6 linked regions of the Homo sapiens genome follow. The protein of the gene in region 1 interacts with the protein of each later gene in a pairwise test. Each region holds a gene or a part of one and is shown in the gene's direction. Other genes may lie near its edges. The genes, in order: NGEF, SH2D1A, FAM118B, HCK, NUDT21 and ATP5F1C.

Evidence for each region.
Region 2: the proteins of NGEF (region 1) and SH2D1A interact in a two-hybrid assay, tested with the Homo sapiens proteins (one large-scale study listed by BioGRID and IntAct).
Region 3: the proteins of NGEF (region 1) and FAM118B interact in a two-hybrid assay, tested with the Homo sapiens proteins (one large-scale study listed by BioGRID and IntAct).
Region 4: the proteins of NGEF (region 1) and HCK interact in a two-hybrid assay, tested with the Homo sapiens proteins (one large-scale study listed by BioGRID and IntAct).
Region 5: the proteins of NGEF (region 1) and NUDT21 interact in a two-hybrid assay, tested with the Homo sapiens proteins (one large-scale study listed by BioGRID and IntAct).
Region 6: the proteins of NGEF (region 1) and ATP5F1C interact in a two-hybrid assay, tested with the Homo sapiens proteins (one large-scale study listed by BioGRID and IntAct).

The regions. Positions count from the first base shown.
Region 1 is NC_000002.12:233,009,750-233,015,608, reverse strand, and holds the start of NGEF (ephexin-1), read left to right. Parts: upstream 1-2,352; 5' UTR 2,353-2,541; exon of another isoform or gene 2,542-2,995; intron 2,996-5,859. UniProt on the Homo sapiens protein: Acts as a guanine nucleotide exchange factor (GEF) which differentially activates the GTPases RHOA, RAC1 and CDC42. Plays a role in axon guidance regulating ephrin-induced growth cone collapse and dendritic spine morphogenesis.
Region 2 is NC_000023.11:124,352,126-124,357,477, forward strand, and holds part of SH2D1A (SH2 domain-containing protein 1A), read left to right. Parts: intron 1-5,352.
Region 3 is NC_000011.10:126,249,057-126,254,408, forward strand, and holds part of FAM118B (protein FAM118B), read left to right. Parts: intron 1-1,449; coding exon 1,450-1,677; intron 1,678-5,202; coding exon of another isoform or gene 5,203-5,248; coding exon 5,249-5,352. UniProt on the Homo sapiens protein: May play a role in Cajal bodies formation.
Region 4 is NC_000020.11:32,085,603-32,090,954, forward strand, and holds part of HCK (tyrosine-protein kinase HCK), read left to right. Parts: intron 1-1,025; coding exon 1,026-1,205; intron 1,206-2,965; coding exon 2,966-3,042; intron 3,043-5,352. UniProt on the Homo sapiens protein: Non-receptor tyrosine-protein kinase found in hematopoietic cells that transmits signals from cell surface receptors and plays an important role in the regulation of innate immune responses, including neutrophil, monocyte, macrophage and mast cell functions, phagocytosis, cell survival and proliferation, cell adhesion and migration.
Region 5 is NC_000016.10:56,441,333-56,444,832, reverse strand, and holds part of NUDT21 (cleavage and polyadenylation specificity factor subunit 5), read left to right. Parts: intron 1-3,500. UniProt on the Homo sapiens protein: Component of the cleavage factor Im (CFIm) complex that functions as an activator of the pre-mRNA 3'-end cleavage and polyadenylation processing required for the maturation of pre-mRNA into functional mRNAs.
Region 6 is NC_000010.11:7,798,177-7,801,676, forward strand, and holds part of ATP5F1C (ATP synthase F(1) complex subunit gamma, mitochondrial isoform L (liver) precursor), read left to right. Parts: intron 1-813; coding exon 814-1,018; intron 1,019-1,254; exon of another isoform or gene 1,255-1,325; intron 1,326-1,595; coding exon 1,596-1,739; intron 1,740-1,850; coding exon 1,851-1,915; intron 1,916-3,500.

The DNA.
Region 1 (5,859 bases):
CAAATGTTTGTTGAATGAATGAAGGAAAGGTTGGATAAATGGGTGGATGGCTGGGTGGATGGCTGGATGGATATATGGGTAAATGGATGAGTGGATGGATGGATGGTGGATGGATAGATGGATGGGTGGATGGGTGGATGGATGGCTGGATGGATATATGGGTAAGTGGATGAGTGGATGGATGGATGGTGGATGGATAGATGGATGGGTGGATGGGTGGATGGATGGGTGGATGACTGGATGGGTGGATGGGTGGATGGATGAATGGGTGGGTGGATGGGTGGATGAGTAGATGGATGGGTAGATGGATGTGTGGATAAGTGGGTGGATGTGTGGATGAGTGGGTGGATGAATGGATGAGTAGGTGGGTGGGTGGATTGGTGGGTGGATGGGTGGGTGGATGGATGGATAGATGGTGGGTGGATGGATGGATGGGTGAAGGGATGGATGGTGGATGGATGGATGGTGGATGGATGGGTGGATAGATGGATGGGTGGATGGGTGGATAGATGGATGGGTGGATGGGTGGATAGATGGATGGGTGGATGGATGAATGGGTGGGTGGATGGGTAGTTGAGTAGATGGATGGGTAGATGAATGGGTGGATGAGTGGGTGGATGAATGGATGAGTAGATGGTTGGGTAGATGAATGGGTGGATGAGTGGGTGGATGAATGGATGAGTAGATGGTTGGGTGGATGGATGGATGGATGGATGGATGGATGGATGGATGGATGGATGGTTGGATGGATAGATGGTGGGTGGATGGATGGATGGAAGGGTGGGTGGATGGATGGGTGGGTGGATGGAAGTGTGGATGGGTGGATGGATGGGTGGATGGGTGGATAATGGATGGATGGATGGGTGGATGGATGGGTGGATGGGTGGATGATGGATGGATGGGTGGATGGATGGTGGATGGATGGATGGACGGATGGATGGGTGGATGGGTGGATGGATGGGTGGATGGGTGGATGGATGGGTGAGAGAATAGATGAGAGACTACTTCAATCTGGCTTTCAGGGACAAAACTGAAACCCATGTTTTGTGGCAATCAGATGGCTGTGGGAACTTTCAAAGATGGCCCTCAGGGACCCCCACCCCTGGTATTGTGCCCTGTGTAATCCCCTACCTTTGAGTGTAGGCTGTGCCTGATGACTTCCTTCTAACGAGTAGAATATGCCAGAAGTGATGGAATATCACATCCTTGAGTATATTACAAAAGACTGACCTACCTCTTCCCAGACTCTCTCCATAGCCCTCTCTGATGCAACGAGCTGCCAGGGCGGAGAGGCCCACATGGCAAAGGACTGATAGTGGCCACAGCTGACAGCTGAGAGGGGCTGAGGCCTTCATCCTACAGCCCTAAGAAACTGAATCCTGCCAACACCAGCAGCTTGGAAGTGGATCCCCCCTAGTGGAGCCATGAGATGAGACCTCAGCCCCTCCAACACTTGGATGGCAACTTATGAGAAACCCTGAGCAGAGAACCCAGCCAAGCAGTGCCCAGACTTCTAGCCACAGAAACTGAGATGACAAATGAGTGTTATTTCAAGCCACACACTTTGAGTTAATTTGTTTCCAGAACAGATAGCTAAAACAAACGCTGATTTGAGTTTTATATAAAGATGGATGATGTAGCAATTAAACTTGGCAAATGATGGTAGTGGTTTTGATACTAGTTGGCTTGGGTTTGAATCCTGGATCCCCAACTTACTAGCTGTGGGGCTTTGAGCAAGATGATCAATTTCTTGAGCCTCTGTTTCTGCATCTTTAAAATGGGCATGATTCTCTGGTCATAGTGACAACACAAGGATTACATAGATTATGTAATGTACTTAGCCCAGTGCCTGTCATGTAGTAAGCACTGGATTAAAGGAAGCTATTAGAGGGAATAATAATAATAATAATAATAATAATAATAATAATAATAATGGAGCAAGATGCCTTACAAAGCAGTGAGTGTTCCATGCCTGGAAGTGATTGAGTTAAGGCCAGATGGCCATGGCAGGAAGTGACTAGAACCCTGGAGGACCCCAAAGCCTCTCCCAAATCTCAGATTTGAGGGCCGTGCAGCTGGCTTGGCCAATGCTTGGGGTTGGTGGGCCAGCTGAGCCACGGGCCCCTCTTGGTGTGACCATCAGCATTATCTTGCACTGGGCGGGCGGCGGGTATTCCAGCCATGCCCAGCCTTCCCCTCAGATAGCCCTTCCCTCCTGCACCACTTTTGTGTCAGGTATGTGGCTGCCACCCTGGCTCAACCCATGGGGCCCAGGAAGGTAAACACCCAGCCGGGAAGTGATCGTTATGGGCTCGTGGCCAGCTATGGGCCAAGGCAGGTCTAAAGGTCGGGAATGCTTACCAGTGAAGCTTTTCCAGGACAGGACGAAGTTTTTGGCTGTGGGCTCTCTGGGACAGAGTGGAGCGCCTGTGGATTTAGCCGGGGACACACCATCCTGCTCGCAGGTGCCTGGACAGGACAGGGGACGAGGGAGGAACACTCTCTGAGGAAGCCCAACTCCTATGAGCTCCTCTCTGGCAGGTGAGAGAATGGTTTTGGTATTTTTTAAAAAAATAAAATGAGATAAAACAAGAGAAGGAACAGAGGCTACCGCTAGGACAGGTAGGAAAGGAGATTACCACCCATCCATTCACTGAGGAGGAGCCCCCAAGAGAAACAGCAGCCCTGGATTCCACCCGAGGGATCCTGTCTGGTCTCGGCTTCAGCACTGCCCCTCCTGGCACTCAGTTTCACCATCTGGGAATCAGGATAAGGACTCCTTCCAGGCGCTCTTCCATTATGGCTGTGGGGTAAGTGAGATCAAAAGCAGGAATGGCTGCATAATTGCAGGGCCCTGTGCAATATAAAAATGCAGGGCCCCTTGTTAAAATAGTAAGGCTTTCAAAAGGACAACAACACAGCATTAAAGCAAGCCGGGGCACCTTCTAAGAACAGGGCCCTGTGACTGCCCAGGCCCCACACCCACGACGCCAGTCCTGATAATGAGCGTATATGTAAACGGAAGTGCCCTGATTCCTGTGTGCCATGGCACAAATCTCAGGGTCAGGAAGTGCACTTGGGAAACAGAAGTCATAGTCGTGAAGTGACAGCCCACTGCGCTTTAGCTCCCCCAGCACTGCCCCCTCCGCTCAGGGGCCCCTTTCAGAAAGACAGAAGGCCCTACCCCTCAGAACCTTCCTGATTTTTGCATCTGGCTGGCCTCAAGCCACAGCACGGTGTGACTGAAATGTGTAGGGACACAGTTTTCTTGGATGTGAAAGTGGTAGGTTCTTATTGTCTATCTTGATTTAAAATTTGGGACAGTCACACAGTCTCTGGCTGTGTAGAGGTGGGACTTGTGTTTCCTGGGCTCGTGACAGCTCTGCTATGTTCCATTGACTATCAGTGTATTTCTGCTTTTTGGGAAAATCCTTAATGCAATAAGGCCACTGGTGGGAATGTTCCAGCTTGGACACTTGCCATGTGTCTTTGTCCTCCCTGCCCCTTCTCTCTTTCTCTCTCTCTCTCTCTCTTTTTCCATTTAGGCTTCCCCTTTGCCCATGTCTCAGGCTGCCCCTTGGCACTGCTTAGCTCTGAGGAAGTAGAAGCCAGGGTCCCCTTGGGGGTCAAGCTTTCTGGTCCATGAAGGGAGACCACAGACCACCTCCCTCCACCGCACTCTCCTCCCACATCCCTTTCTGGAGCCCAAATTGTCATGGGAACCCCTCCCAGGGAGGGGATCCCCACAGGAAAGCCAGGGGTTGATCCAATGACAGTGTGAGTAACATTCCACAGCTTTCTGCCCCAGTGGGGCTGGGGACACAGATGAGGCTAGACATGGGGGAAGATGAATTGCTTTAAGAAGAGCTGATGCATGCCTGTAGTCTCAGCCACTCAGGAGGCAGAGGCAGGAGGGCTGCTTGAGCCCAGAAGTCATGCGGTGGGCTATGATCATATCACTGCATTCCAACCTGGGCAACCTGGCAAGACTCTGTCTCTGTTCCTTTTTTTTTTTTTTTTTCATTGCTTTAAGAACTTCCCTTGGCCTGTGGGAGACCGGAAGCTTGTACCAGTAACAAAATAGCCCAGATGTTGTGGGGCCACCCAGAGCCTCTCAGAGGAGACCAAACCTAACCACCCAAGCCTGCTGGCTCTACCAGGGGCGCAGGAGCTGCTGTTTGTCCCAAGAAGCTGGTGAGCCACCAGCACCAAGTCGGACATCCCGTCTCCCAAGATGACGTCCCTTCCCCATCTACATGGGCCCATTGCTTCCCGAGTAAGGAGTCAGCTCTGATGCTCTGAAGTCACCCCCCAGCACAACCCCAATGGCAAAAATTCCTTTACTCCTTCATAGATAATTGCTGTGCACAGTGTATGTGTGAGGCTTTGAAGTGGGGCTGGGGACACAGATGGGACAATGGTGGCCCTCAGGCTAGTGGAGATGAAGCGATGCTGTGTCCCACACCCCCGAGGCCAGGCCAGAAACCCCGCTTGGTGAAAAGAGCACACCAGCCCTCTCACCCCAACAACGGTGATAGGATCCTGAGGCTGAGAGGCACCGTGGCCCAGCGGAGCAGGGGGTTCCATCTCTGAGCCTGGATGGGCTGCCTCTTTTCAGACCCCCCTTCTCCCCGCACCTAAGCCCCCTCTGCTACCATGATGGTGTCTTCAGGAGGCTGCTGGGCCTCAGGAAAAATTCCTTCCCTTGGCCTGGGACCACCTCTCCCCACCTTGGGAGAGGTCAGACCAGGGGGTGGAATTCTGCCTCCAGACTGGAGGACCCACCCCAGAAGGCTGAGGACTTCAGCCTTACTCCTCCTCCCTTTGTTTGGCAGCCATCCTGGAGGCCAGGGCCGTGGGAGACCACATGGGGTCTGAGCACTGAGGAGGGGCCATTTGCTGGAGCACCCTCTGTGGGCTGCTTTTGGGAAACTAGCTCAGGTGGTTGATTAAGGACCTGGGAGCCTGGGTGAGGCCATCTCACAATCTTCCTGCCTCAACTCACTTTGCCTGTGGACAAGGAAAAAAAAAAATCACACGTTCAAATGAGGAGGATGGGCACCATCAAAGGGATGGATGATCAGCAAGGCCTGCATGGAGGAGGTGGCCTCTGAGCTGGCCATCATTCAACAATCTTCCATCACTTATTAATGATTTTCCAGGAGGAGGAGAAGAACTGGGGGTGTGGTTTGATGTATTATAAAGCAAGCATTACTACCTTGAAAATAAGGTAGTAATTCTTTTCACACTCACTCAGAATGAATGCTCCAGGTTCTCTAAATAGCATACGTTCACAGATAGCACATTCCAGGTGAAGGGACAGCAGGGTTTTAGCAAAAGGGAGGGAGCCCTGCAGTAAGGGTTGGGCCAGTGGAGGCAGAGACAGGGGAGGCATGAGGTCTGTTTAAAAGATGCCAGCTGGGCGTGCTGGCTCACACCTGTAATCCCAGCACTTTGGGAGGCTGAGGCGCATGGATTACCAGAGGTCAGAAGTTCAAGACCAGTCTGGTCAACATAGTGAAACCCCATCTCTACTAAAAATACAAAAATTGGCATGGTGGTGGACCCCTGTAATCGCAGCTACTCAGGAGGCTGAGGCAGGAGAATGGCTTGAACCCAGGAGGCAGAGGTTGCAGTGAGCCAAGTTCACGCCATTGCACTACAGGCAAGGTGACAAGAGGAAGACTCCAATTCAAAAAAAGAGAGACAGGACAGGTGGAGTGGAGGGAAGGTGGAGGGGATGGCCCAACCCAAGATGCCAGGACCCCAGAGGTCCACAGAGATGAGAGTGGGGGTCTGGATGGCCAGCGTGTCCCATGGGAAATTCATCCCTCACTTCTGCACCCTGCACCTGGTGGC
Region 2 (5,352 bases), on another chromosome or scaffold:
GTTTTGTTAGTTTACATTTACCTCTTTAATTCCATTTGGAGTTGTATTTTGATGTGGATAAAAGATCTAATTTGATTTTGTTTCCAGATAGCTAGCAATTGTCCTAATATAATTTATAAATACAACTTCCATTCTTCATTGATTTGCTAGCCGACTTTACCATATATTAAATTCTTATATATAACAGTTACTGTTTCTGGACTATCTATTTGTCTCAATTGATCCATTTATTCTTGCACTGATAGCACTATAGTATGATAATGTTTTAATATATTTTAAAAATTATTTGCTATTCTTATCTGTTGGTTCTTCAAAATGAAATCTAGAATCATTTTATTAAGTTAAAAAAAATTCATTGGACCAAATGTTTTAGCTCTCACATGCCAGTGAGAACACATGATATTTGTCTTTCTGTGCCTGGCTTATTTCACTTCACATAATGACTTCCAGTTCTATTTACATTTCTGCAAATAACAGGATTTCATTCTTTTTAATGGCCAGATAGTATTCAATTGTATATGCATAGCACATTTTCTTTATCCATTCATCTGTTGCTGGACTCTTCTATATCTTGGCTACTGTAAATAGTACTGTGATAAATGTATGGGCGCAAGTATCCCTTTGATATATTGATTTCCTTTCCTTTTGATAGATACCCTGTAGTGGGATTCCTCAATCATATGGAGATAGAGAGTAAAATGATAGTTACCAGAGGTTGGGAAGGGTGGAAGGCGATGAAGAGAGGTTGGCTAATGGGTACAAACAGACAGTTAGATAGAAGAAATAGGTTCTAGTGTTCAGTCGCACAGTACGGTGACTATAGTTAACAATATCTTATGTATTTTGAAATAGCTAGAAGAGAGTACTTGAAATGTTCTTACATATAGAAATGATAAATGTTTGAGGTGATAAATATCCTAAATATTCAAATCCCCTGATTTGATTATTACAATGCATACATGTGTTGAAACATCACACTGTACCCCATGAATATGTACAATTATTATGTATCAAAAATTTTTTTGAAAACACCATTGGGGTTACATTAAATTTATTAATAAACTAAGAATGAATTGTCATCTTTAAATAATTTAGTCTTCCCTTCCCATAACATAAGTCTCTCCATTTATAATTTTTTTGTTTATATCCATCAATCAAGTTTTATAGTTTTCTTTTTGTATGTCTTATACATTTTTTGTTATTTCGAGTTATTGTGTGTATGAATGTGTATGCTGATTTTTAAAAATCATAAATGGGATCTGTTTCCACTATATTTTCTGTTTCATAGGAAAGCTACTGATTTTATGTTCTGTTCTTGTATTTATCCAGTGTACTGAATGCTCTTATTAATGCAGATAGTTTTTTTTTTAAGTTTATTCCCTTTGTTTTTTTTAGATACATCAAGTTTCTTTTCACTGAGGTACATATGTTCTCTCACATTTCTTCCCTTCTCACCCTCAATGTAGACAGCCATTGGGAAAGTTCTGACTGCCCAGTGGGATTGATGGTGATAAGACGAGAACTAATTTAAAATATTTAAAATAATTAGCTCAAAAAATAGTTTATTTCCATAGTTGGCATCCTTCTGGACATATCTGCCTTTGTTTGCTACTTATCTGATGGAAGATTTGGAAGAAGAAATGCTGTTATAATTCTTTAGCTTCAAGGACACATAATGAAGTCATTTGACATGTATGTCTTTAGATAAATGCATAATTATCTTTTTGTCCTTTAAGTTTTAAAGGGACAACTGGGAATAAAGTGCCTGTCAAACAACTGAACTGGAGAAATGGGGGAGGAGCAGTGATGAAATAAAATTCCAGTTTATCAGTTGCAATAAAGGGGAACAGTGTGGCAAAGAACTTGAAATTATAACTTAACTTCATTTAGTGAGAAATTACAACTTGCATTTAGTTTTTGAATTCAATTGGATATGTGCCTTGGTGCCACATTTATCTTCATGATAACTTAGGCCACCAACATTATTTTCAATTTCCTGAATACAATCCAGTGGTAAAGTGAGCCTGAAAGCCAGCCTAGGATTGTTTGCCACATATAAACCACCGAATGGATAATTCACGGCAAATAAGCCAAGTACTGACTCTGGTTGACAATGTAAAATTAAAGTTGCAAGATTAGCCTGAAGATGTCATTTAGCTTAAGCAAAGGGGGAGTCTGGGTTGATCTCTTTCGGGCTCTCCCCACCTGGCCTCTTCCCTTCAGCTCCCTCCACTGCCCTCCTTCTCTCAGTGGACAGTTCTAGCTCCATGTCCAAGCAGATTCCCTCCCTTTTTGAGAATTGTGCTTTTGGAATTGTCTTAAAGACCAATTTGTTAATACATTCCCTCTAGTATAAGAGAGGGGCAGCACAGAATGGTGGTTAAGAGCCCAGATCTTCCAGCCAGATCTCTGGGTGTGCATCCCAGCTCTGACCCTTAACTAGCTATTTTCCCTTGGGCAGGTTACTTTAACTTTCTGTGTCTCAGGTTTCTTACCTGTAAAACGGCAGATGGTGATAATGAGAGTACTTACCTCACAGGGTTGTTATGATGATTATGACATGAGTTAATATTTGTAAAGTTAACATGTAATATGTGTTTTTTAATATGAATAAAAGCTCTATAAATAATTGTAATACAAAGTTAGAACATCATAAGTATACGTAAATAAAACTTGATATGGAAGTTCAGGGGAAGAAGTGGTTATATTTATTTTCATGACTCATCAAAATATCACATAGTTTTACCATCACACTTGAAGTTGAATGACTTTCAACTGTTTCAAAAATTAAAATTCTCTCTGAAAGAATAAAGTTTGGGCCATTGTAAGTTTGGAAAGCTCTTGAATCAGAGTATAGTCTCAAAAATAATGGCTTTGTGTAGGATACTATTCCTCTGGATATAAAAGTTCTGAAACGTTTGTTAAAAATCATTATAGTTGTGTCTTGAATTTTGTATGTAGCATTAGTTCGTATAGACGTAGAGGGCATAGGTACTGGCTTGCTTTATTTGAAATGTCATGAAGAAGTCAGATGTAGCTAAATGTTTTCTTTTGTGTAGTACTTGACGTGGTATAAAAAAGGAATTGATGTGGATTTGTCAGTTCTAAACCAGGATCTGTCCCCAACACTGACCCACTGAGAAAATAAGAAATAAGTCAGGTTGGTTGCTTCTTGCTTCTTGTCCATTTCTAACCTGGACACTTTTTTACAGTTAGGGACAACTTTTGATGAAATAAAGACAAATTTCAATATCAGCAGAGACTAGATTAACACATGCTTTATAGTAATTAAAATAAATTAAAGGCAATGATAAAACTCCACCGTTCTTTAACAATTATTCATGTTCTGATTTTTTTGGTGATACATTTTAAACTCTAGGATTATCAAAAAGTCCAAAAAAGCTTTAATGAGGGAAGGAAGTTAAAAGTACACTACATTGCTGGTTTGTCTGTATTAAGGGAGGGAGTCAGAGGAAATATAATCCTGAAGGGGATGTAACAATTTAAAAAAATGAATTACATTTTTATGAGTTGTGATTTGCTTAGGCTAGGTTTGTAAGGCTCCAAATTGTAATTCTGCTTGTTTTTCTTAAAAAATTAGTCACTTAAATAACTACATGAAAAAATAACATGCAAGAATGCATTTACGTTAGTTTAAATTTACTTCTAGTTTATATACACACAGGGACAGACAGTTTTGAATAGTTGTAATCAGAGTGGCATCCCCTTGTGCCCACTTTTTACACATACTGTCATTTTATTTTTTTATTTTTATTTTTTGTTTTGTGTGTGTTTTTTTTAATACTTTAAGTTCTAGGGTACATGTGCACAACGTGCAGGTTTGTTACATATGTATACATGTGCCATGTTGGTGTGCTGCACCCATTAACTCATCATTTACATTAGGTATATCTCCTAATGCTATCCCTCCCCCCACCCCAGGACAGGCCCCAGTGTGTGATGTTCCCCTTCCTGTGTCCAAGTGTTCTAATTGTTCAATTCCCACCTATGAGTGAGAACATGCAGTGTTTGGTTTTCTGTCCTTGCGATAGTTTGCTGAGAATGATCGTTTCCAGCTTCATCCATGTCCCTACAAAGGACATGAACTCATCCTTTTTTATGGCTGCATAGTATTCCATGGTGTATATGTGCCACATTTTCTTAATCCAGTCTATCATTGATGGACATTTGGGTTGGTTCCAAGTCTTTGCTATTACACATGCTATCATTTTATGTCAACATAGTCCACATACTTAAAGTTTTCTGGAAAACCTAAGACTCTAACATTTTTGAATTTTGGCATAAGATTTTATTTGTTTATTTATTTATTTATATTTTTTGAGACGGAGTCTCTCTCTGTCGCCCAGCCTGGAGTGCAGTGGTGTGATCTCAGCTCACTGCAACCCCTGCCTTCCAGGCTCAAGCGATTCTCCTGCCTCAGCCTCCTGTGTGGCTGGGATTACAGGTGCGTGCCACCACACCCAGCAGTTTTTTGTTTGTTTGTTTTGTATTTTTAGTAGAGACAGGGTTTCACCATGTTGGCCAGGCTGGTCTCGAACTCCTGACCTTGTGATCCACCCACTTCAGCCTCCCAGAGTGCTGGGATTACAGGCGTGAGCCATCGTGCCCAGCCAGCATTAACATTGTAAACCTTCACCTTTGACATAGAAAGTGTAATTTTGAACCATTGTTTCTGCTATAATTCCTTTATTTTTCCCTAATTTATATATTTATTTCTAAACTGGCAAAATTGTATATATGTATTGTGTATGACATGATGCTTTGAAATATGTATACATGTGTAATAGCTAAATTGGGATAATTAGCATATGCATTACCTCACATACTTACATTTTGTGATGAGAACACTTAAAATCTACTCTCTTAGCAACTTTCAAGAATACAATACATTGTTTTTAACTATAGTTGCCACGTTGTACAATAGATCTCTTGAACTTTTTCCTCCTAACCTAAATCTTTTATCCTTTGACCCAAATTTCCCAATCCCCACCCTGCACGCCCCTACGAGCCCCTGGTAGCCACCCACCATTCTACTCTTGGCTTGTATTAGTTCAACTTTTTAAGATCCCATGTATAACTGAAACTACGCGGTATTTGTTTCTCTGCGCATAGCTTATTTCACTTTACAAACTGTCCTCCATATTCATCCATGTTGTTGCAAATGACAAGATTTCCTTTGTGTTTAAGGCTGAATAGTATTCCATTGTGTATATACAACATATTTTCTTTATCCATTCATCTGTTGATAGACATGTAGGTTGATTGCATTATGTCTTGGCTATTGTGAATAATGCTGCAATATACATGAAAGTGCAGATTTCTCCTTGACAT
Region 3 (5,352 bases), on another chromosome or scaffold:
GTTATTTAAGTAAGCCGTATGTTAAGAAGTAGGAGGTCTGGAAAAGTGGCTGATACCCATAATCCCAACACTTTGGGAGGCTGAGGTGGGAGGATCACTTGAGATCCCAGGAATTCAAGACCTACCTGGACAACATAGCCAGACCTCACATCTGCAAAACAAGACATTGGGATTCTGTTTAGAACTGATTGGTGTTTGATGTTTTCAACAGTTGCAAAATGCAAATTTTTAATTTAAAAAACGTATTAAATTGTTTACGTTAACCTTTTGTATACTGGATATTCTTCAGAATAAACCTATGAACTGCTGAATTATGGCATGTAGAAGTTAAGCAGTTTTTCCTAAATTCATAAACAGCTGTACAAACACCTAGGATTAGAAAAGGAGATGCTGAGGCTGGGTGTGGTAGCTCACACCTGTAATCCCAGCACTTTGGGAGGCTGAGGTGAGTGGATCACAAGGTCAGGAGTTCAAGACCAGCCTGGCCAAGATGGTGAAACCCCGTCTCTACTAAAAATACAAAAATTAGCTGAGCACAGTGGCAGGCGCCTGTAATCCCAGCTACTTGGGAAGCTGAGGCAGGAGAATTGCTTGAACCTGGCGGGGCGGAGGTTGCAGTGAGCCGAGATCACGCCACTGCACTCCAGCCTGGGTGACAGAATGAGACTCCGTCTCAAAAAAAAAAAAAAAAAAAAAAAGAAAAAGAAAAGGAGATGCCAAACCACAATTAGGGCTGTGTCTCAGTGGCGTTTCCCTACATAAGGCAAGATGAACGGAAAGTGTTGCCTTCTTACCTGGCACCTCATGAGAGGGTAGTTGTCGCTCTGCTTTGTACCCCAGCTTCCCTTTAATACCGACAGTAAATTCATATCCCTTGGCCAGGTTTATTTTCTTCATTCTATAAAAATGCCTATTTTAGGAAGCTTACGTATAGTAGCACTTGCTATCTGCTAAGCATTGTGCTAAGCACTTGGCATGTATCATCTCATCTTCCTTATTACGTTCGTATGAGATAGATAATATTTTATCCCCGGGATTTTTTTTTTTTTTTTTGAGATGGAGTCTCGCTCCGTCGCCCAGGCTGGAGTGCAGTGACGCGATCTCGGCTCACTGCAAGCTCCGCCTCCTGGGTTCACACCATTCTCCTGCCTCAGCCTCCCAAGTAGCTGGGACTACAGGCGCCTGTCACCACGCCCTGCTAATTTTTTTTATTTTTAGTAGAGACGGGGTTTCACCGTGTTAGCCAGGATGGTCTCGATCTCCTGACCTCGTGATCCGCCCGCCTCGGTCTCCCAAAGTGCTGGGATTACAGGCGTGAGCCACTGCGCCTGGCCTTTATCTCTGTTTTGAATTCAAAATATTCTTCCAAAATTTGTTACTGCTGTAACTAAAACAACTGACCTACCAAAGCACTTTGGACTAATTTTCTTTTTTCAAATCCCTCCTCAGCGTACCAGTAATGTTCGATCCACATTTTTCAAGGACTGTTTATATGAAGTATTTGATGACTTGGAGTCAAAGATGGAAGATTCTGGAAAACAGCTACTTCAGTCAGTTCTCCACCTGATGGAAAATGGAGCCCTCGTATTAACTACAAATTTTGATAATCTCTTGGAACTGTATGCAGCAGATCAGGGGAAACAGCTTGAATCCCTTGACCTTACTGATGAGAAAAAGGTAAAAAGTAAAGCATTGGTCCCTTCTTCAGGCTAGTGGATTTTATCTTCCTCAGAAAAGCTCTTTTCTAGTTGGTATATTGGTATTTATGTAGAGCTAGAAAGGAAAAATTTTTTCCCTGGTTGGAGTTTTTGTTTTTCTTTTTTCTTTCTTTTTAAAGATCAAATCAATATACAGTAAAATGCATAGAACTTAAAAGTGTTCAGTTCTATGACTCTTGACAATTTCATCCAGTTTTAAAGCAAGATTAGAGGAAGTCACTTGAACTGTAAGATCTCTTTAGCACTTGACAGTATTCAGTGGTGTAATATTGATAATGCTGGTTCTATTTTAGGATACCTTTTTTTATGGCATCTATTGGAAATGTATGAAAACTACTTTATACTGATTGGAAGAACAACTTCCAGGCCAAGCGATGGCTGAATTGAGGTTAATGTTTAGTGGAAACCTCAGCAGACTTTGTTTTAGCATAGTCTATACTGTACCTACCATAATTATTGAATTATAGATGTTGATCTGTGTCAGCTAATGAGATGAGTTCTTAAAGTCTCATTGGTCCTACTCTGTGATTTTTGTAATGTTTTTTCCTACACTTTGTTTTCCTCAGGAATCTGCCTTTATGTCCAATTTAGAGCCCAACTAAGTAGAGTTGAATAGACAAGTGATTTGCCTGCTGGCATTCAGTACTACAGTATTGCCCCTGCCAGAGTGGTAGCTGAAATACCACTCTTGTGGTTTTGCTGACCTTGATGGCAGGATTTAAAGGGAATTGAATTTAGAGAAAAGCTGCCCCATGAAGACTAGTTTTCTCTGGTCCAAGTGTCTTCCGCCTACGCCCTCATATTCTGTATGGTCAGCTCCTTCTTCATTTATAACTCTCAACCTAGGGATCCCCTCCTGAGAGACCTTCTCTGACCATCCTATTTAAATTGGATACTTATTTTTTTTATCCAGTCTCTTGTCCGTTTCCTTTGTAGCACTTAGTATTAACTTGCAGCTTTTTTTTTTTTTTTTTGAGAGACAGTTTCGCTCTTGTTGCCCTGGGTTCAAGTGATTCTCCTGCCTCACCCTCCTGAGTAGCTGGGATTACAGGCATGTGCCACAACGCCCGGCTAATTTTGTATTTTTGGTAGAGACGGGGTTTCTCCATGTTGGTCAGGCTAGTCTCAAACTCCTGACCTCAGGTGATCTGCTAACCTCAGCCTCCCAAAGTACTGGGATTACAGGCATGTGCCTGGCCGTTTTGTTTTGTTTTGTTTTGTTTTGTTTTGAGATGGAGTTTTGCTCTTGTCGCCCAGGCTGAAGTGCAATGGCATGATCTCAGCTCACTGCAACCTCCTCCTCCTGGGTTCAAGCGATTCTCCTGCCTCAGCGTCCCGAATAGCTGGGATTACAGGCACCCGCCATCACGTCTGGCTAATTTTTGTATTTTCAGTAGAGACAGGGTTTCACCATGTTGGCCAGGCTGGTCTCGAACTCCTGACCTCAGGTGATCTGCCCACCTTAGCCTCCCAAAGTGCTGGGATTACAGGCATGAGCCACCACACCCAGCACAGTTTTTATCTTGGCTGTTTATCTGTTTTCTGACTGTTTACCCCATAGGAATAGTAACTTCACTTGGATAGGTATCATGTTAGTCTTTCTTACCCTCATAACTCAAATACAACCCTCATGTCTCAAATATGACAGTTAGGTGCTTGGTAAATATTTTTTTGATTAATAAATGATTGGGCTGGGCACAGCAGCTCAGGCCTGTAACCCCAGCACTTTGGGAAGCTGAGGCGGGAGGATCACTTGAGCCTAGTTCAAGACCAACCTGGGCATCATAGCAAGACCCCATCTCTACAAAAAGTTTAAAAATTAGCCGGGCATGGTGGTGTTTGCCTGTGGTCCCAGCTACTTGGGAGGCTGAAGCAGGACGATCGATTGAGCTGAGGCAGTCGAGGCTACAGTGAGTTGTGATCACACTGTTGCACTCCAGCCTGGGTGACAGCATAAGATCATGTCTCTAAATAAATAGGCTGGGCACAGTGGTTCACGTCTGTAATCCCAGCATTTTGGGTGGCCGAGGTGGGTGGATCACTTGAGGTCAGGATTTTGAGACCAGCCTGTCCAACATGGTGAAACCCCGTCTTTACTAAGAATACAAAAACTAGCTGGGAGTGGTGGTGCACGCCTGTAATCCCAGTTACTTGGGAGGCTGAGGCAGGAGAATCATTTGAACCCAGGAGGCAGAGGTTTCAGTGAGCCAAGATTGCGCCACTGTGCTCCAATCTGGGCAACAGACCAAGACTCTGTCTAAAAACAAACAAACAAATGATTGAAATTTTAAAACTAGCAGCTTCTATGCTATTTGTGATAAAATTTCCAAAGATTATGACCAAGTGTGTTCATGGATATCAGAAGCATAAGGACCTTTTAAAAGCTGAGGATATCTATCACATTTGATGTTTTCCTTCTCATTTCATCCTTGGGCCTCAAGATTTGCATTGTATTTTCAGCCCACATTAGGGGCAGTGTTGCAGTCTAATGGTTAAAGACATTGACTGGTAGTCAGAATGGGGCCTAGTAACATTCAAATTCTAAATCTCGGTGCCTCTTGACTACTTTCCTGATTCATAGCCTATTTCTCCAAAATGTGATAAGAATAAATGTATGCTGTCTCCAGTCCTTGGGAAAATGGAGCCATGGAATCAGGTGGCTATTGCATTCGCTGTTGTCTAAATGATTGTTCTTCGCTGGCAGCCTTTTAGGTTCCTCAGAGGTGACTGAAGTGATTTTTCTATCACTTATCTATTGCTGTACAAGTAATGGCCGTGAAACTTTGTGGCTTGTAACAACAAATATCTTATCTGCCCATGATAAAGTATATTAACAATTTGAACTGGGCTCAGTGACTCAGCCAGGCATTTTTTCTGCTGATTTTTGCACCCTCTTCACATACCTGCAGACATCTGATGGCCGCACCAGGGCTGAGTGATATAAGGGGACCATACTTCCCTGCAAGCAATTGGCCAGGCCATATATGTCCCAGCAGGCTAGCCCAGGCTTCTTCACTTTCTTCGCATGGCAGCTGGATTCCAAAAGTAACACAAGAGAAGTAAGACTTCTTGTGCCAACACTTTTCAAGCTTCTGCTTGTGTGTGTTTGCTAGTATCCCATTGGCTAAAAGCAAGCCATGTGGTTAGCCTGGAGTCACTCCGAAGAGGGGCCACACAAGGGCCTGGATACAGAGGCTTGATTTCTTGGGGCGATCACTGAAGCAGTTGTCCATAGCTCTCATGCATGCCACCAGTGCAAAGGGTCCCTGTTGTTTCTGCAAATTATGACAAATTGTGATTTTTGATGCTTACTTTCAAAGAGAAATCACCAAATTTGTTGCCATCATTCTTGACAGTCATTCCTGAAGTGGAAACTTAGACCACATCAGGTTTTGCATTCTTGTCCTATATCATGAAGCTAGAGAGTTTATGTCAGAAGTCTAGTCCTCAAAACAGCCTCTTGCCCATTGTGACCTTTAAACAGGTGCTCAGCCCTGCCAAGCTGGTTGGGCTATATGTGTGTTGTGCAGGTCCTCGAGTGGGCTCAGGAGAAGCGTAAGCTGAGCGTGTTGCATATTCACGGAGTCTACACCAACCCTAGTGGCATTGTCCTTCATCCGGCTGGATATCAGAA
Region 4 (5,352 bases), on another chromosome or scaffold:
CAAAAATATCATATAAGACGCTAGACTCCTACTACAGGAAGCCCACGGTTCTGGATTGGAGCTTCCTGGAAGCCAAGGCAAAATGGAAACCCAAGCAATTATAAAATTGACAAGACCCACCAAATGAAGCAGGGTGGGGTGAGGGGAGGGAACAGCATGTGCCAAATCCCTGTGGTGGGAGGTGAGTTGGGTGCTTGAGGGACTGAGTGACCTGCAGGGTGACTGGCACATAAAAGGCAAGGGGAGTTTAGTGGCTGATGAGGCTAGAGGGGTGGACGAGGCTGGGTCATGTAGGGCCTGGGGGTCATAGTAAGTCTGGCATTTATTTAAGAGCAGTGTTAAGATTAAAGTGGGCGGTGTATGTGTGTGACATAACCTGAGTAGTGTTTTAAAGCTATTTTTATTTGTTTGGGTTTTTTGTTTGTTTGTTTGTTTGAGACAGAGTCTCGCTCTGTCACCCAGGCTGGAGTGCAGTGGCTCAATCTTGGCTCACTGCAAGCTCCGTCTCCTGGGTTCACACCATTCTCCTGCCTCAGCCTCCCCAGTAGCTGGGACTACAGGCGCCCACAACTGCGCCTGGCTAATTTTTTGTATTTTTAGTAGAGACGGGGTTTCACCGTGTTAGCCAGGATGGTCTCGATCTCCTGACCTTGTGATCCGCCCACCTCGGCCCCCCAAAGTGCTGAGATTACAGGCGTGAGCCACTTAGAGCTATTTTTAAATCCTTGCAACAGCACTTCAAAGGCAAAGCTTACCATTTCCACTTTACAGATGAGGAAGCTGAGGAAGCCACGGCTCAGAGACGTTAAGCCACTTGCCCTAGTGTGCACAGCTGGGAAGTGGTGAACCCGCCTTTCAACCCACAGTTGTCTGAGGCCTAAGCCCATGATTTCGCTTCCCTCTCTGAGAGTTGAGATGAGCAGGAAAGACTTTCTGGAGGAGGCGGGTCTGCAGCTGGGCCTTCTAGGGTGGTACGGGAGACCAGTGGGCTCTGACCACCTTCCCTGCTCTCTATCCCCCTCCAGCCACCTACAACAAGCACACCAAGGTGGCAGTGAAGACGATGAAGCCAGGGAGCATGTCGGTGGAGGCCTTCCTGGCAGAGGCCAACGTGATGAAAACTCTGCAGCATGACAAGCTGGTCAAACTTCATGCGGTGGTCACCAAGGAGCCCATCTACATCATCACGGAGTTCATGGCCAAAGGTGCTGCGTGCTGGGGCTGGGGGTGCAGGCTGTGGCCTATACTGGTCAATTGCGGGCCCAAGGGTGGCTTGGACATGGTTCTTGCCCTTGAGATGGCCCCAATCTGGCCAGGAGCTCTTCCAACAAGTACTCATTGAGAATCTAATGTGGAACAATCCAGCCCTCCTGGTTAGTGGGGTGAAATCATGTTAAGGGGTCACCAAGGGGAAGGGAGAACAAGGGGCTACCAGGAGAAGGGAATGGGGCCAGAATACTCCTGGGCAATGGGAGAAGGGGCTTATGGTTCACAGTGAGCCTTAGAGGCCAGGGTGTGGCATGGGTGGTGGGGGTGCCACTCTCCCGCATCAGCCACCTTCCCTGTACTTGCCAAAGCCCTGGGAGAGGGAGCTGGCAAAGCAGCAGTTCTGCCCCCACCCCCGCCCTGCCACAACTCAGGATTTCTTGGGGAATTTTTTTAGGCCACTGTTTCACAACCATTTTCAACCCCTGCCATTTTTTGTTTGTTTGTTTTTTAGGGACAGGAACTTGCTCTGTTACTCAGGCTGGAGTGCAGAGGTGCAATCATAACTCCTGGGCTCAAGTGATCCTCCCACCCCAGCCCCCCGAGTGGCTGGGACCACAGGCCCATGCCACCACACTCAGCTAATTTTATTTATTTATTTACATATTTATTTTTAGAGACAGGGTTGCCCTCTGCCTACCCAGGCTGGAGTGCAGTGGCGTGATCATAGTTCACTGTAGCCTCAAACTCTCAGGCTCCAGGATCCTCCCGACTTAGTCTCCCCAGTAGCTGGCACTACAGGCATGCACTACCACACCCAGCTAATTTCTAAAAAAATTTTTTTTTTTTTTGAGACAGAGTCTCACTCTGTTTCCCAGGCTGGAGTGCAGTGGCACAATCTCGGCTCAATGCAAGCTCCACCTACCAGGTTCACGCCATTCTCCTGCCTCAGCCTCCCAAGTAGCTGGGACTACAGGTGCCTGCCACCATGCCTGGCCAATTTTTTTGTATTTTTAGTAGAGACGGTGTTTCACCGTGTTAGCCAGGATGGTCTCAATCTCCTGACCTTGTGATCCGCCCGCCTCAGCCTCCCACCATGCTGGAATTACAGGCGTGAGCAACTGCGCCCAGCTTCTAAAATTTTTTTCTAGAGACAAGGTCTCGCCATCTTGCCCCAGCTGGTCTCAAACTCCTGGGTTCAACTGATCCTCCCAAAGCTTTGGGATTATAGGCATGAACCACTGAGCCTGGCCTAACATATATATTTGTAAATTTCTTCTATAGATGGGGTCTTGCGATGTTGCCCAGGCTGGTCTCAAACTCTTGGCCTCAGGTGATCCTCTCACCTCGGTCTCCTAAAGTGTTGGAATTACAGGAGTGAGCCTCGTGCCTAGCCACTCTGCCCATTTTTTGATAAACAGAATCATCTCATGCAATCCCATTTAGTGCGATTTGAAACCTCAAGCCTTTTTCATTTTAACTATGCAATTATGCCAGTCCTGTGAAGGCATGATCCCAGCCATCCAGGCTCAGGGGCTGTCTCAGTCACAGAATCCATCTAGCAATCAAAAAGTCACTTCACTAAAACTCAATTCTCTTTCTCAAACACTAGGAATTGCAAACAAATATTCGTATTTAAATCTACTACTATGAAAAATCTTCACCACACACTAAAGTACTAGATTGGTGCAAAAGTAATTGTGGTTTTTGCCATTAAATAGTAAAAGTAGTAAATGTTCCTCCCCTCTCCCCCATATAGGAAGCTTGCTGGACTTTCTGAAAAGTGATGAGGGCAGCAAGCAGCCATTGCCAAAACTCATTGACTTCTCAGCCCAGGTGAGAGCCTAACGAGGAAACGGGGAAGGGAAACAGGAATTCGATTTTTTTACTTGCCAAATATTTACTGACCACATACTATGATGATAGCAGTAATAATAATGGGTAAAATGTATTGAGAGCTCAGTATAAAACTATGTTTTTTGCATATATTTTATTATACATGTACTCATTCATTTAATCATCCTATAAGCTTTATAGGCTGGGATTTTTGTTATCTATTTTGGTATAACAAACCATCCAAGTCCTAGTAGCTTGAAACAACAGCAATTGTTATTTCTCATGATCCTGTGGGTTGCCTGGGTTCAGCTGGGTGGTTCTTCTGCTCGTCATGGTAAAGTGAGGTGCAGATGTTGGCACTTGCCCAGGCTAGAATGTCCAAGACATGGCTCAGCCTCCAGGGTCTCTCCACATAGCCCCTCACCACCCAATCACCCAGCCTGAGCTTCTTCACGGCGCAGCAGCTGGGTTCCAAGACAGAGCTGGACCAGGGGCCAAGCCTTCATGAGCAGGCTCTCATTAAGCCTCTGCCTGCATCAGGCTTGCTAATGGCCCATTGGCCAAGTCACATAGCCATGCCCAGAATCAGTGTGGGAGGGGACTGACCAAGGACACAAATCCCAGGGACCCCCTCAATGTAACAGTCTGGCCACAGAGTAGGTAATTATCATCCCATTTTACAGAATAGGAAATTGAAGCATAGAGCAGAAGTAAAGTACAGATGTGGAAACTGAGCCCCAGTGTGGTTAAGTGGCTTGCACAAGTTACTGTGCTAATTATGGGGGATATAGCAGTGAACAAAATGAAAATGTTCCTGTCCTAATAGAGTTCACAATCCAGGTGGGAAGATGAGTATTAAATAACCAAATCTCTTAGAGACCATGACCCAAGTGGTCCTGGCTGAGTCAAAAGAGCACAGTATCTAACAAAGTAAATAATGTTCACAAATCGCAAAAACACTGCTGAAAACCTAATTTTCTTTCTCATGTTCCCCACGCCCCTTGCAGCTCCTCTCACCCCCAGCCTAAGCAGTTTTTTCACTTCTGTCCTCTCTCATGCTCTCTCTGATGTCTGGGAAAACAGAGTGTAAGGACGGGGTGGTATTAGAGTGCATAGCTAGAGCATTTAGCCTGGTCCAGGAGCAATCAGAGAATGCTTCCTGGAGGAAGTGGCCTCTAGGCCGAGCCTGAAGGATGAATAGAAGTTCAGTAGATGAAGAGAAAAGGTAAAGGTCTTTTAGACAAAAGAAACAGCCTGTGCAAAAGTAGGTGAAGGAGTTCAGCCTACTCAGCAGGAGCCCAGGGATAGTGGGAGTTGAGTGAGACCCTGCCTGGGCCTCAGCTGGGCCTGCTGGAGATGCCAAGGGCAGGGCTCATTTGAGTATGCAAATTCAGGGGCCCAGAGGACACCACAAAGTGTAACAAAAGACTCTACTTTCAGAGCCTGGAATGCCAGAGGCATATGGAAATGTGTTTTCACTCCTATGGGCCAGGTCCTCTGGGAGACAATAGACTGGTCTGTTGCTAAATTATCATCTTCAAACTAGCAGAAGCCCTGCTGGGCAGCAGTCACCGACCAGGGCAAGAGCCACTCTGCCCGTTTCACAGAGGGGAAAACAAACCAAGGGAGGAAAAGAGGTTCTGGGCCTTCATCTGTCCAGAAGCAGAGGTAGATTCAGAGCCCAGGGACAGAAAGGAGCCCACCTGGGGCTTTGGTCTTCACCTCCAGACTCAGAGAGGCAGCTTGGAGCAGCAGGTGGAGAACTGGACCACACATGTGGGGTTTCTGTAGTCACAGCTTTGTGGGTGACATGAAATGTTATTCAGTAGCTGCATATATACAAACAGGTCAAAACAGAGCTGCTCTGACTGAAGCAGGGTGGGGGGCTTATCTGTGGCCTTTCTTTTGTCTCCCCCACCCCCATATAACCTTGAGGCATCCATAGGATTCAGTTGGAAGAGCTCTACAGGTCCTTCCAGCTCTGATGCTGTGACTCCCTGATACTCTTTGGAAGCAAACCCAAGGGTGCCCAACCTCATGGCACCCTATCTGGGGGTCATGAAATCTCACCGCCTTTATCAACCCGCAGTGCTTACACCTGGGCCCAATAAACCTACTCGTTATTCATTCAGTCAGCAGACCCTGGAGAAGCAACACTATTAGCATCTGGGCTTAGGAGTCACACAGAGTTTTGTTTTGATCTCAGCTCTGCCTGTGTAGCCTCAAGCAAGTTGCTTAACCTCTCTGAGTGCCACTTTCCCCCACTGGGAGCACTGGGAGCCACTCTTTAAATAAATACTTAACTATGTG
Region 5 (3,500 bases), on another chromosome or scaffold:
TTCAACCTGTGTATCTAGATTGTCTTCCCCACTCTGTAATTAGGCAAAGACTGGCTGATGATTCTCTGTAGTAATTGAATCAGAGAACAACTAGCAATGAAAAAAGTTTAGGGGATGGGGAGAATAAGAGTTCCTATTCTGAATAGTCAGACTCTTGGACCTCTATTAGGCTGACAGAATGTTAACAATTAGGCTTGTTTTTTTTTTTTTTTGTTTTTGTTTTTTTTTTTTTGAGGCGGAGTTTCACTCTTGTCGCCCAGGCTGGAGTGCAGTGGCGTGATCTCCAATGTGAGCAATGGTTGCTCACTGCAACCTCTGCCTCCTGGGTTCAAGCGATTCTCCTGCCTCAGCCTCCAGAGTAGCTGGGATTACAGGTGCCCACTACCATGCCCAGCTAATTTTTATATTTTTAGTAGAGATGGGGTTTCACCGTGTCGGCCAGGTTGGTCTCGAACTCCTGACCTCAGGTGATCTGCCTGCTTTGGCCTCCCAAAGTGTTGGGATTACAGGTGTGAGCCACTGTCAGTCTAGGCTTACTTATTTTTTTTAGAGACAGGGTCTCACTCTGTTCCTCAGGCTGGAGGATGGTGGTGTGATCATAGCTCACTGTAACCACAAACTCCTGGGCTCAAGCAATCTTCCTGCCTCAGCTTCCTGAGTAGCTAGGACTGCAGGTATGTGCCCATGATGCCTGGCTAATTAAAGAAAAGTTTTTTATAGAGATGAGATCGTGCTATGTTGCCCAGGCTGGTCTCAAACTCCTGGCCTGAAGCAGTCCTCCCAAAGCATTGGGATTACATGCATGAGCCACCAGGCCCAGCCAACAATTAGATTTATATATCCCAGGCTGAGGGTTGGAATTCTTGTTTCTGGAAAAAGTGACCAGTCCAAGAAAAACTTCAGATACTGCCATTTGGGAGCTGTCTTCGTCTGTTTAATGTTGCTATAACAGAATACCTGAGGCTGGGTAATTTATAAAGAAAAAGATTTATTTGGCTCACCAGTTCTGGTGGCAAGATTGGGCAGCTGGTGAGGGCTTCATGGTGCTTCCACTCATGGCAGAAAGCAAAATGGGAGTGGGCATGTGCAAAGAGACATGGCAAGGGAGGAAGCAAGAGTGAATCCAGGAAGCCACACTCTTTAACAACCCTCTCTCCAGGGAACTAATCCATTCCTGATGGAGGAAGGGTATTAAACTATTCATGAAGGATCCACCTGCATGACTCAAACACCTTCCACTAGGCCCTGCCTGCCAACACTGTCACATTGGGGATCAAATTTCAACATGAGTTTGGGGGCAGGGAGACAAACCATATCCAAACCAAAGCAAGAATTTTCTATAGAAATAATGTAGTCCTGGGCCAGGCGCGGTGGCTCACACCTGTAATCCCAGCACTTGGGGAGGCCAAGGCGGGTGGATCATGAGGTCTGGAGTTTGAGACCAGCCTGACCAGCATGGTGAAACCCCGTCTCTACAAACATAAACAAATTAGCTGGGCGTGGTGGCGGGTGCCTGTAATCCCAGCTACTCGGGAGGCTGAGGCAGGAGAATCAGTTGAACCCAGGAGGTGGAGGTTGCAGTGAGCCAAGATCATGCCACTGCACGCCAGCCTGGGCAACAGAGCAAGACTTCGTCTCAAAAAAAAAAAAGAAAAAAAAATATTGTAGTCCTATCACTCATGCACACAGAGGTGACAATTAAGCATCTTGTTGCTTCTCCCTTGTGAGTACACAACCAACTATCACCAGGCTTTTGGAGAAAACTTCTTAACAAGAAAAAGATCAAAAGAAGCAAAAGGACCTCAACAGAAGCAGAAAATTCAACCATTGACAAAACTATGATTAATATTCTTGGTGAGATGAGAGGAGATTTTGCACCTGTGAAACAGTGCTATTAAAAAGACATTTTAGCCAAGAAAAACCTCATGGATATTAAAAAAATGTTGGAAGAAATGAAAAATTCAGTAAAGAGTTAAGAGGTTCATTCTACCAGAAAATAGAATGAAAAGATAAAAAGATAGAATGTAGGTAAGAATAGATAAAATTAGTGGGTCATTCTAGAAGGACCAATATAAACTATAGATAAATAGAACAGAGTAAAAGGAAGAATTAGCAAAGCATAATTAGAGAAAATTTCTCAAACCTCAAAGGGCATGAGTTTTGAGATTGAGAAGACCTACTGGCCTTGCCTCTATAGTGAATGTTTAAAGATCCACGCAAAGGCATATCATCATGACGTTTTAGATCCTACAAACGAAAATAAAAACAAAAAGATGTAAAAGCTTCCAAAGTGGGAGGTGGAGGATTGGTAAGCAGAGAGGTTAAATGCAAAACATCAAAATCAGAAATTGCATTAAACTACCCAGAAATAATTCTGGAAGCTAAGGGATGGTGGAGTGTTGTCTTTGTAATTTTGAGAGAATATAATCTCTGTCCTAGAATTTTCTAATCAAACTATAAATCAAGTGTGTGGGTAAAAGTTACTTCTAGACATGCAGAGTTTCAAAAAGTTACATCTCTTGTACCTTTTCTCAGGAAGCTACTAGAGGGTGTTCACCCCCAAAATGGAATAAAATAAGGACTCCAGCTGTGAAGCAGGGTTGAGACTATCAAGTACAGATTACAGCAGGATGATAGAAAAACGTGTCTTAGGCTGGGTGTGGTGGCTCATGCCTGCAATTTCAGCACTTTGGGAGGCTGAGATGGGCAGATCACGTGAGCCTAGGAGTTTGAGACCACCCTTGGCAACATGGTGAAAAATTAGCCTGGTGCTGTGGCTTGCATCTGTAGTCCCAGCTACTCGGGAGGCTGGGGGCAGGGGAGGCTGAGGTGAGAGAAGCGCTTGAACCCATGAGGTGGAGGTTGCAGTGAGTGGAGATCGCGCCATTGCGCTCCAGCCTGGGTGACAGATCTTGTCTTGAAAAAAGGAAAAACATGTCTTAGAAAAGATGAAATTAATAGAATAACTGACAATTGATATTTGAATTGGGAAGAAATTTAAGTTATCATGGAGAATGTGGGAAATGAATTTAGTGATAGCAAAGGAAATGAAAGTTATTAACTAAAGAATAGGACAGTTGAACAAGTAAGGAGATACGGTTTGCTAATCATTGCTCTGTTGTGACTGATCTACCGGATCATACTAACTTAAATACTGAATATTGACTTAACCAAATATTGATAATGGGAAGATGGTGGAAGAAAAAGTGTAACTAGGATGTGTGATTTTAATATCTAAATTCTCATTCATAGTAGAGGGTTATAGGCTTTTAAAAAATGTTTTTAAAATGAAAATCAAGAGGCCAGGCGCAGTGGCTCACGCCAGTAATCCCAGCACTTTGGGAGGCCGAGGCAGGTGGATCACAAGGTCAAAAGATCGAGACCATCCTGGCCAACATGGTGAAACCCTGTCTCTACTAAAAATACAAAAAAGCTGGGTGTGGTGGCGGGCACCTGTGGTCCCAGCTACTCGGGAGGCTGAGGCAGGGGAGTCGCTTGGA
Region 6 (3,500 bases), on another chromosome or scaffold:
AGCTGTCCTTTGTTTTTTTATGTGTGTGTGTGTGTTTTGTTGTTGTTTTTTGTTTGTTTTCTTTTTGTGTTTTTTTTTGAGATGGAGTCTCATTCTGTTGCCCAGGCTAGAGTGCAATGGTGCAATCTCAGCTCACTACAACCTCCCCCTCCCAGGCTCAAGCGATTCTCCTGCCTCAGCCTCCCCAGTAGCTGGGATTAACAGGCCCCCACCATCACACCTGGCTAATTTTTGTATTTTTTTTTTCTGAGTCGGAGTCTAGCTCTGTCTCCCGGGATGGAGTGCAGTGGCATAATCTCAGCTTGCTGCAAGCTCTGCCTCCCGGGTTCACGCCATTCTCCTGCCTCAGCCTCCCAAGTAGCTGGGGCTACAGGCGCCCGCCACCACGCCTGGCTAATTTTTTTGTATTTTTTAGTAGAGACGGGGTTTCACCGTGGTCTTGATATCGTGACCTTGTGATCCGCCCGCCTTGGCCTCCCAAAGTGCTGGGATTACAGACGTGAGCCACCGTGCCCAGCCAATTTTTATATTTTTAATAGAGACGGGATTTCACTACGTTGGCCAGGCCGGTCTCAAACTCCTGACCTCAGGTGATCCGCCCACCTCGGCCTCCCAAAGTGCTGGGATTACAGGCGTGAGCCACTGTGCCCGGCCTCAGCTTACAGCTGTCCTAAGAACACCTGCTTACACTAGGCAGTTGCCAGCTAAATTTAAATGCGTATTTTGGAAATAACCAACTGCTTTGTAAATTAGAGATTTATTGTATTTAGTGTATTGCATATAAAAAAATTACTGCTTTTGTTTGTTTTTAAGCTCTGTATGAAAAAGCTGATATCAAGGGGCCTGAAGACAAGAAGAAACACCTCCTTATTGGTGTGTCCTCAGATCGAGGACTGTGTGGTGCTATTCATTCCTCCATTGCTAAACAGATGAAAAGCGAGGTTGCTACACTAACAGCAGCTGGGAAAGAAGTTATGCTTGTTGGAATTGGTGACAAAATCAGAGGCATACTTTATAGGTAATTTAAATATATATTGTTTATTTTCATAAAGATGTAAGCACGAATAAATCTTCTCTCAAAAGTTTTGACAAACTCTCAAAACCTTCATCAATAACAAGGTATATTCTTCAGGGCCTTTTTTGGTATATTCACAAGGGGGTGTTTGTTTCCTTTTTCTTTTTTCCAGGATATATTGGAACATTTCTGTTTTCCTTCCCCTGTTTTCTACCTTTGCTTCTTCATCCGGATCATAAGTTGAATGCCATGTGAATATCAAAAGCTATCAGCATTAAGCCAAATGAGGCATCTGAGGAGCTGTTACAGCCTGGAAATGTTAGCAATAGTTCATTAGGATTAGAAGGAGAGGAATAAAGGGGAAAAGAATATAAAACAGACCTCATTTTTAGTTCTTAGTTCTTTGCAGGTGCTGAAGGAAAGGAATGATGATAGTGTGTGGAACAACTCAGGAAATCACCACCACCCATACCCCAAAAGACCTGATCCATGGTGACAATGTTTTCTCCTGCCTGTCCCCTGTGCTCTTTCAGCAGAAATCTTATTAAACTAGCTATGTGAGCTCTTGCTTTTCTTATAGGACTCATTCTGACCAGTTTCTGGTGGCATTCAAAGAAGTGGGAAGAAAGCCCCCCACTTTTGGAGATGCGTCAGTCATTGCCCTTGAATTACTAAATTCTGGATATGAATTTGATGAAGGCTCCATCATCTTTAATAAATTCAGGCAAGACAGATTTAGAAATCAAAGCTTTTTTATGTTCATGCTTTTGTTCATATTTTGAAATAACAGTTTAAAAATTATTTTGAGATTTACATTTGTTTTTGTCAATTCTAGGTCTGTCATCTCCTATAAGACAGAAGAAAAGCCCATCTTTTCCCTTAATACCGTTGCAAGTGCTGGTAAGTAGTTTTTCTATGATACATATTTTTTGGCATATAGAATGGAGAGATTTGTACACTAAGGCAGACAGTGTCAAGATATCTGGTGGTAGCTATAGCAAATGATTTGGGGCTGTTTCTTTTTTAGATGGAATCTTGCTGCCTCCCAGGCTGGAGTGCAGTGGCACCATCTCGGCTCACTGCAAGTTCCGCCTCCTGGGTTCACACCATTCTCCTGCCTCAGCCTCCCTAGTACCTGGGACTACAGGCACCCGCCACCAAGCCTGGCTAATTTTTTGTATTTTTAGTAGAGACGGGGTTTCACCATGTTAGCCAGGATGGTCTCAATCTCCTGACCTCGTGATCCACCCGCCTCGGCCTCCCAAAGTGCTGGGATTACAGGCATGAGCCCAGCCTTTTATTTTTTTATTTTTTATTTTTTGAGACGGAGTCTCACTGTGTCACCCAGGCTGAAGTGCAATGGCATGATCTCGGCTCACTGCAACCTTCGCCTCCCGGGTTCACGCCGTTCTCCTGCCTCAGCCTCCCAAGTAGCTGGGATTACAGGTGCACGCCACCACGCCTGGCTAATTTTTGTATTTTTAGTAGAGACAGCATTTCACCGTGTTCGCCAGGCTGGTCTTGAACTCCTGCCCTCAAGTGATCCACCTGCCTTGGCCTTCCAAAGTGCTGGGATTACAGGCATGAGCCACTGCACCCGGCCGATCTGGGGCTGTTTCTGAGAAGTGCCATCTCTTGACTTCCATGATACTTAATTCAGTCATTGTTTGATAACTCCTGCTCTATTCTGTCATTAATTGAAAAGTCAGTATCTATTGAGGTTCATCATTAGATTTTTTTGTCCTCAAGGATTGAAGAGCGTAGCTAGAAACTGGCTTTGCAAGTTATGTTTGGGACCTCTAACTACAATAAAACAGAAGCTCTAGAATAGAGAGTTGAACAGTGTTCACAGCTAATTTACATTGACTGACTCAATTCTCTTGTTTTATTGTTGGAATAAAGTCATCATTGATCATTGAAGCATCCTGGAATAATATTCTGGAACTGATTTTAGTTTTCTAAGGCTTTTTTCCCTTGTATATACCATCTATTTTCTAATACTTCATTTATTTTCAAGTATGTACTTTACACGTTAATGTTTCTGAAATTGAGATGGCTCTACCAGCCAATGGAACATCATTTATAATTGAGTACATTTTTTTCTCTCTTAATGAGAAATAAAGTAGGTGTTACAACCAGTACCATTTAATGAAATATAGTATTTTGATAATATATAGTACTGTGTCACCACTTGACCCCAATGAATGAATTTTGAAATGTACTTCTAAATTTCTACAACATTAAAACTACGATTCATACCAATTTCTAGTTCTCCCACTCTTTCATGTGCTTTGAAAGGTTTTCCCTCTCTCATTTTCCAGATTGATACATTCAGATTTCTTCAGTAATCAAATGACTAAGTTGGAATTACTGCACAGGTTGAGTATCCCTTGTGTGAATGCTTAGGACCAGAAATGTTTGGGATTTCAGAATATTTTCATATTTATAATGCAGTATCTTGGGGACAGGACCTGAGTCTGTACAC